Linked DNA regions of Homo sapiens. The protein of the gene in region 1 purifies or fractionates together with the protein of each later gene. This does not show direct contact. Each region holds a gene or a part of one and is shown in the gene's direction. Other genes may lie near its edges.

Region 1 (3,814 bases):
TTTAAGCCTCTGCCCAGTGTCACTTCCTCTATGAATCTTTTCCTGATGGTGATGCACAGCCCTCTTCTCTCACCTCCTTCACCTCTTTCACACCTTCAGATTTGACCCAGTAGTCTCGCAACTGACTTATAGCAGAGCACTTGTTACAAGACTTATTTATTACACCCATCATGCCCTTTTACACTCCTTGAGGGAATTTCTCCAACACCCAGTAGAGTACCTAGCATCGAGTAGGTGCTCAGTAAATGTTTGTTCATCAATGGGATAAGTGAGTGGGTTAGTAAAACCTATTTCTTTGATGCATGTGTTGCTTTTTTTTAAGACAAAGACTTTATTTTTTTATTTTTAAAGTTATTATTTTTTTATTTTATTTTTGTTTTTATTTATTTATTTTTTATTATACTTTAAGTTTTAGGGTACATATTTTTTGAGATGGAGTCTTGTTATGTTGCCTGGGCTGGTCTTGAACTCCTGGGCTCAACTATCCTACTGCCTCAGCTTCCAGAGTAGCTGGGACAACAGGTGTGCCACCATACCTGGTCATGTGTTTCTTCTTAAGCAGCATGTAGATGTTCTTAAAAACCCTTTACATAGTTTTTTGTTTGTTTGTTTGTTTCTAGTGGGTATCTATCCCACTTATTTTGTTTTCTCTTTCTTGAAATAACAGGGGAGACGAGACAAGTCAGACCTGTGGGTGAGCTGGAGTCAGTTCAGGGGTGATTGTCAGGGGCTTGTTCTTCGGTAAGGAGAGTTAACCTTCCCTGTGCTGGTCCCATCTAGGTAACTGCGTCATTGATTGGCTGGTATCCAACCAGTCTGTTAGGAATCGCCAGGAAGGCCTCATGATTGCTTCATCGCTGCTCAATGAGGGGTATCTGCAGCCTGCTGGAGACATGTCCAAGAGTGCAGTGGATGGAACTGCTGAAAACCCTTTCCTGGACAACCCTGATGCCTTCTACTACTTTGTAAGAAAAGCTCCCCATCTCTTCTTCCTGTAAGGGAGGCTGCCCTGAGCAGATTCTAGATTGATTTCAGTTCATAGACATCTATAGAGCGCTGTTAGGCAGCGGGTAGGGAGGTCAGCCAGGAAGAACAAGGGAATACCTGAAGCTCCCAGGCCCATTTAGAGCTTCTGTTATACCAGCATTTCCCAACTCAACAGCTGCCCTCTCTACAACACTCGCCCTGTCCAAGTGAATTTGTTATTATAAAAGGATACTACTGTTTACTTGAAAAAAAATTTTTAAAGGACATTTTAAAGTTTATTGTTTCCTATTTACTTATTATTATTTTTTATTTATTTAGATGTAGTCTTGCTCTGTCACCCAGGCTGGAGTGCAGTGGTGTCATCTCGGCTCACTGCAACCTCCGCCTCCCGGGTTCAAGCGATTTTCCTGTCTCAGCTTCCCGAGTAGCTAGGATTACAGGCATGCGCCACCACACTCAGCTAATTTTCGTATTTTTAGTAAAGACAGCGTTTCACCATGTTGGCCAGGCTGGTCTCGAACTCCTGACCTCAAGTGATCCACCTGCCTCTGCCTCCCAACTATCTATTCTTATTCTAAGCAATAATTCATTTATAAAACTGTCTTAGACCCTAGTCCATGGCAAGCATTCTCTAAGACAAGAAGATACAGCCACGTAGACAAGCGTACTGGAGGGACAGGCAAAAATCCTGCCCTACTGCAGCTTCCTTTCCAGACAGGAGTCTATAAATCACAGGTTTGATGTATTAAGTGCATTATTCCAAATGTATGTTAAAACACATGACTCTTAATACAAAATGTGTCCACAGATGTCACTTCCTGCAGTCATCTTGTGTACCTCCCACAGTATGCTTACCCACGATTGGGAAACACTATATTATACAATGTGAACCTGTTCTTAGGCCATGTGAGCAATGGTGGATTTCTTGGGGGATTTTGGCAGTTTTGTTTCTATCTTGGATCAGAGCACAGAATTTAGGAAGTTACCTAAGAGAACCATTCTTCTTATAAACATGAAGTGAACACCCTAGAGGGTTTCATTTCACTTTAGGGGAAGTTCCACAGTCTGTTTTTTTTTTTTCTTCAGTCCTTTGATCTGGTCGTTTATAGCCATTTCAATGCAGGATTCTAAAAATACCCATCACAGTGGCTCCTCTTCCTCGGTCTGATTCATCATCTACTTTTGCTGAGCAAGTCCCACTTCCCTCATAACCTCAGGGGAAGAGGCTGGACACATGCTGTCACTTTTCTCCAAGAGGGGGCTCAGTGGCAAATGTTGAGCTGGTGATAGTATTGCCAATGAGAAATTAGCCTGCCCTGCTTTCAAGGATGTGACCATGATATCCCAAGAGAAGGAAGGCTTTGAAGGCAGACATGTGCCTGGTTAGGAAGATGGAGCTAAAGTTAGGATACAGCTTGGGAGACCCTCCAGAATAAAAGGATATTGACAAGATCACACCTGAGTGGAGACAAGAAAGGAACAGCCCCGGAAGCAAGTAAAAGGAGGAGGAGAAACTCGCTCATCAAGGACCTTTGAAGTTCAGATTGGGATGTACACAGGAATGGAGGAAAAAGGAGGAGGCTGCCCTCATGGCTGGAGGGGAGGGGGAATGGAGATGGCACAAGTTGCAATGTGCCTAAGACTGGTGATGTTAGCTTGCTGTTTGATTTTCCAACAGCCAGACAGTGGGTTCTTCTGTGAAGAGAATTCCAGTGATGATGATGTGATTCTGAAAGAAGAATTCAGAGGGGTCATTATCAAGCAGGGATGTTTACTGAAGCAGGTGAGTGGCCACAACTGCTCCCATCTAGCCTTTTCCCTTTACAAGGTCCTTTTTGTTTCTAAGTTACCCAGTGACTTTTGGTTTGTTTGGTTAATAGTCAAGCAGAAAATGAAACCCACAAAGTGAAAGATAGATGAGTAGCTCTTTAGATATCAAAGTGGCTTTAGATCAGGAAGATTGAGTTTGACAGGGCAGAAGATGTCCCTAAAAGTAGGAAAATGCCTCTTTTATCAATATCATAGGAAAAAAAAAGGTGTTTCAAGAAAAATATGGCCGGAGGAGATAAATTGTCTAAGAGATGCCATCCAAAAGACAAAGCTGTCTCATGGTAAAAGTACTTCCATTTTACCTGTCCCTCCTCCCTTCAAAGCAACCAGGAAAACAGGAACAGGCTACACCCAGAAGAGGAACAGAGTACACCACTGAGAGCAAAGAAGAGTCATTCCAGTCTGTGCTTAGGGCATGACAAGACCAAAACCTGGGCATGCAGAGGCCAGTTCACAGGAACAGCAGGCAAAAGTCAAATGCAGATTGAGGGCATGGACAGAGTCCTGGGGGGATGTCCAGGTGTCCACAGGTACAGGCCACCATCAGTCTTGGAGGCAAGGGCTGGAGAGTGCTGAGGAGCTCTAGTCGGTTACCAGGTGCCAAGGCATATGATGCCAAGAGGTAAGAGATGGACAGGGGCCAAGATGACTGAGGAAGCCAGGACCAGTACCTGGTGGAGGAAGTCGCAGGAAGACATGAGAATATTCAGGGGGAAGCTAGTTGATACTTGCACAAGGCATCTTAGAGGCCAAGGCTGCTTTGCAGGACCAAGGTCTTGCCTTCCTGGCTGCACTGTGAGCTGCCTTAAAAGTGCTGCTCAGTATATAATGGAGAGAATCTGTTGCCATCAGGAGATTTCCATGTACTGTCTATAGGCTCCACGGGACTGGGGGATCTGATTTATTTCATGTTAGGACCCTGAATGTCCATCTTAGTGATTAATGGAATGGGCAAGGAGGGAAGAACCAGAGAAGAGCCCATATTTACATTTATAAA
Region 2 (3,814 bases), on another chromosome or scaffold:
CAGGTCTGAGTCCTGGTTCTGCCTCTTATGAGCTGTGCCTCAGTTTCCTTCTTTGTTAAATGGAGGTGAGAATAATAATGATCTCTTGGAGTCACCGAGAGGATTAAATGAGTTATTACCTGTCAACCAGCGATGCCATGCCTGGCACATACTAAGTGTCTCTTTTGTGTCAGCTGTCATTTCATTATTATTGTGATAAGGAATAAGGAGATAAGAACTTGGCAAGTGCACAGTTCCAGACCTGGCACCAAGCACTTGCAAAGATAATGAGTATCCCCTCCTTTGCCTTTTTAAAATTTCCCTGCCTCAGTTGAGCGTTTCTACCTCTGAGTGGGATGAGCATGCACCCTCCACGTCCGTGGTCATGTTTCATAGTGAGACAGGGTCTCACTGTGTTCCCCAGGCTGGTCTCAAACTCCTGAGCTCAAGCGATCTTCCCACCTTGGCCTCCCAAAGTGCTGGGGTTACAGGCATGAACCACCTCACCTGGCCAGTTTGCAAATTTATTAAAGTGAATGTTTAACAGTACTTGAATCTTGAATTGCCCAAGCTTAGATATTGGACAATACACTTTGTGGGAAATAATAAAAATGATGCCTTCCCCAGGTGGACCCACAGGGTGGCATTTGGACACTCCAGAAAGCATCATTGTTTAATCATCAAAATCCTGGTTACCATTTACTGGGGAGCTAGGGAGGAGGCCCATAAAGCAGGAGAAGGGCGGGTCTCTGCTGGCTTGGGTTATAAATAGCTTTGGGCTGTGGGGAGCCCCGCCGCTGGTCCACCCCACCCCTCTTTCCACAGCTCCTTCCCACCTGACACGGGCTCCGTGGCATTAGTCAGACTAATTAAGGACACAGAAGATGTCGGTGGAAAGACTCAGAGAGAAGTGGAGACTCAAGGAGAGACAAAGATGGGAGAGACAGCAAGAGATGGGGGAGAAAAAGGGATGGAGAGATGAGAGACAGCACATGAGACTGTGACTCAGAGAGGTGTGAGGATGGTGGCTGCAGAAACCAGATGTGGGAGGACAGAGGCACAGAGACAGGGACAGGACAGACGGAGCTACAGAAGCAGGAAGGGGGTGTCACCGCTGAGAGGGAGAGATGGAGGGAGGAGAGGCAGGGATGGTGGGGAAAATGAGACAGTTCTGGAGGAAGGGAAAGAGAAAAATCAGGAAACAGGGTGAAAAGAGACCAAGACATGAGACAGATTCAAGGGACAGACAGCCAAGGAGAGCTGGCTGCGGACAGACCAAGGCGCACGTAGGGTGGAGGGGACAGACGCACCTTGGAGATGGGCTGTCTGAGGCCCCATCACTTGGTTTCTGGGACTGGAAGCCTGGGAAGAGATGAGGTCCCTGGGGGAAAGAAGAACTTCTGGGTTTGGGGACTCCCAGTCCCTGAGGGAGGAGGGTTCTGAGTTTTGTTTTCTTATGTGGAGAGTTGGGGGTTGGGGGTTTGCCATTGTGACTTCCTGTCACAGGAAGTGGGGCTGGTGGGTTCCAAGGCAACATCCTGTCCCAGGCCTGTCACAGACCAGAGGAGACCCCTGCACCCCACTTCTCTCCCGCCTCTCCTCTAACCCTCCCATCCCCTCTTGCCTCTGGGCTGTGCCCTCAGGAATTAGCCCCCAGGCCCCTGGTCCCTCCAACCTGGGAGTCCAGGCCCCCAGCCCCCTCTTCCATTAGGGCATTAGGGACCCCAGATTGCAGGCTGTCAGACTCAGCCTTCCCATGGACCCAGGCTCCTGAGCCTCCAACGCCTGCCCCCGCAAGGCTCCCGTCCCTGGGCTCCCGCCCCCTGGCGGGTCTCTGAAGGGCTCTTTGTGGCCACACAGAGGCCCCATTGAGCTGCGGAGGCTGGGATGGGGGAGGCTGTTTACTCACCTTCACACCTGGGCCAGGAATCTGTGAGTAACCACCCTGGGCCGCCTCCTCCCACCCTCCTAACCACAGCCCCTCCTCTTCCTCCAGCCCTGCAGAGCCCAGGGAGATGGAAGACTTCGCCCGAGGGGCGGTGAGTGGACAGAGCAAGGGGTGAGGCGACTCTGGGGCTGTGGGTGGAGAGTCCTGTGGACTGAAGCTGCCCTCCCTTTCCACAGGCCTCCCCAGGCCCCTCCCGGCCTGGCCTGGTTCCCGTCAGCATCATCGGGGCTGAGGATGAGGATTTTGAGAACGAGCTGGAGACAGTGAGTGGGAGATAGGGTGGAAAAGCTCTGTCCCAGGCTCAGTGTCCCGCCCCAGGTCCCCTCCCACCTGCAGATGCTGTCTTCTTGGCCTTTTCCCACGGTCTGTCTCATCCTCTCATCTCCCTGGTACCTCCTTCCTCACCTCGCCGACCCCACACAGCAGCATAGACGCCCACCCTTCTTACTCTTAACCCCATTTCTTATCGTTGCTCTCTCCTCCCCCAGCATGGACCCCAATTTCTTCTCTCCTAATTTCTGTCCTCATCATCCACCATTATAATATTAAGTCTCATCCATTCTCCCTGAACACCTGCCCTTGCTGTCACCATCATTTTTTGGACACTGTCACCACTCCCCACTTCCCAGGAGCTAACCCTGGCTTGGATCCCTTGTGAAGTGCCAGGAATGGGTAGGGTCAACCCTAAGGCCCCTCCTCTTCTCCCCATTGTACTCACCCCTTCCTGCACCCCCAGAACTCAGAAGAGCAAAACAGCCAGTTCCAGAGCCTGGAGCAGGTGAAGCGGCGCCCAGCCCACCTCATGGCCCTCCTGCAGCACGTGGCCCTGCAGTTTGAGCCAGGACCCCTGGTGAGGGCAGGGCTGGGTGGGCACAGGGAGGGGTGGGGCTGGGACAGGCACAGCTTTTAGCGAATTAAACCAGCGAGCTAGTGCCTGGAGGGTCTGGAAAAGCAGATCTAGAACACAGAGAGCCAGATCTAGAAAGAGAGAATGCTTTAGACAAGAGCCAGAAAGCATGCCACGTGACCTCAACAGGCTTACAAGTGCCCAGGGTAGATCTCAGTGCGCAGCGGGCAGGGTACACACGTCAGGACCCCGCGGAGCCACAGAGAGTCCAGCAGCCTGGCAGAAACCACATCCCATCCCACTCTGTGCCTGTGGCAGCGCCCCCATCAGCCTGTGGCAGCACCTTTCCGTGAACTCTAGGGGACCAAATTCTTCTCTCCAAAGCCTTTTTGGCAGATGCCAGCACGCAGTCATTCACGGTTGATGGTTGGGAAAAAGAAGCTGTTAGCCATCCCAGGTCTAGGGAGCACAGCAGGCCCTGATCTGGAAACAAGAAAACCACCACACACAGCTCACAAGGCAGACCACACAATTGTGGATCCAGAAGCCTCCGGATGAGGCAGAAGATACCTGGGAGATGTGGATGGACAACCGTGCCATCCAGAAACACCCGCAGAGTCTAGAAAACCCAGCAGGTGATTTAGAAAGGGAGAGGCCACAGTGCTGGCTGGCAGGGGATCTGTAGACAAGGGTCTCATCCCAAGAAGACCCCGTCCAGCCCAGCACAGGATAGGAGGACAGCCTGGGGACAGCCAGGGCACTGCACCATGTGGACATGCATAGTGGACCCCTCCAGAAAACAAGGAAACCGATAGAGTGGGGAGAAGTGCCCGAGGCATGCAGAAAGAAGAACATGTCAGCTGCAAGACCAGAGGCTGGTCATCCGGACGCCAAACCATCAGATATGCAGAAAATTAGGAAATTGCAGTCTTTCCCCTGTCTACATTCTCTTTCCAGAAGAGTGGTTCCCCCGACAACCACATGCACGGAGACTCTGGCCCTCTGAGCAAGGGAGTCCCCTATTCAAGCCTTGGGGTTTC

What was found.
Region 2: the proteins of PLEK (region 1) and ARHGEF1 purify together in Homo sapiens (affinity purification with mass spectrometry; one large-scale study listed by BioGRID and IntAct). This does not show direct contact.

The regions. Positions count from the first base shown.
Region 1 is NC_000002.12:68,385,722-68,389,535, forward strand, and holds part of PLEK (pleckstrin), read left to right. Parts: intron 1-780; coding exon 781-965; intron 966-2,665; coding exon 2,666-2,770; intron 2,771-3,814. UniProt on the Homo sapiens protein: Major protein kinase C substrate of platelets.
Region 2 is NC_000019.10:41,886,089-41,889,902, forward strand, and holds part of ARHGEF1 (rho guanine nucleotide exchange factor 1), read left to right. Parts: intron 1-1,975; coding exon of another isoform or gene 1,976-1,994; coding exon 1,995-2,018; intron 2,019-2,103; coding exon 2,104-2,190; intron 2,191-2,663; coding exon 2,664-2,777; intron 2,778-3,814. UniProt on the Homo sapiens protein: Seems to play a role in the regulation of RhoA GTPase by guanine nucleotide-binding alpha-12 (GNA12) and alpha-13 (GNA13) subunits. Acts as a GTPase-activating protein (GAP) for GNA12 and GNA13, and as guanine nucleotide exchange factor (GEF) for RhoA GTPase.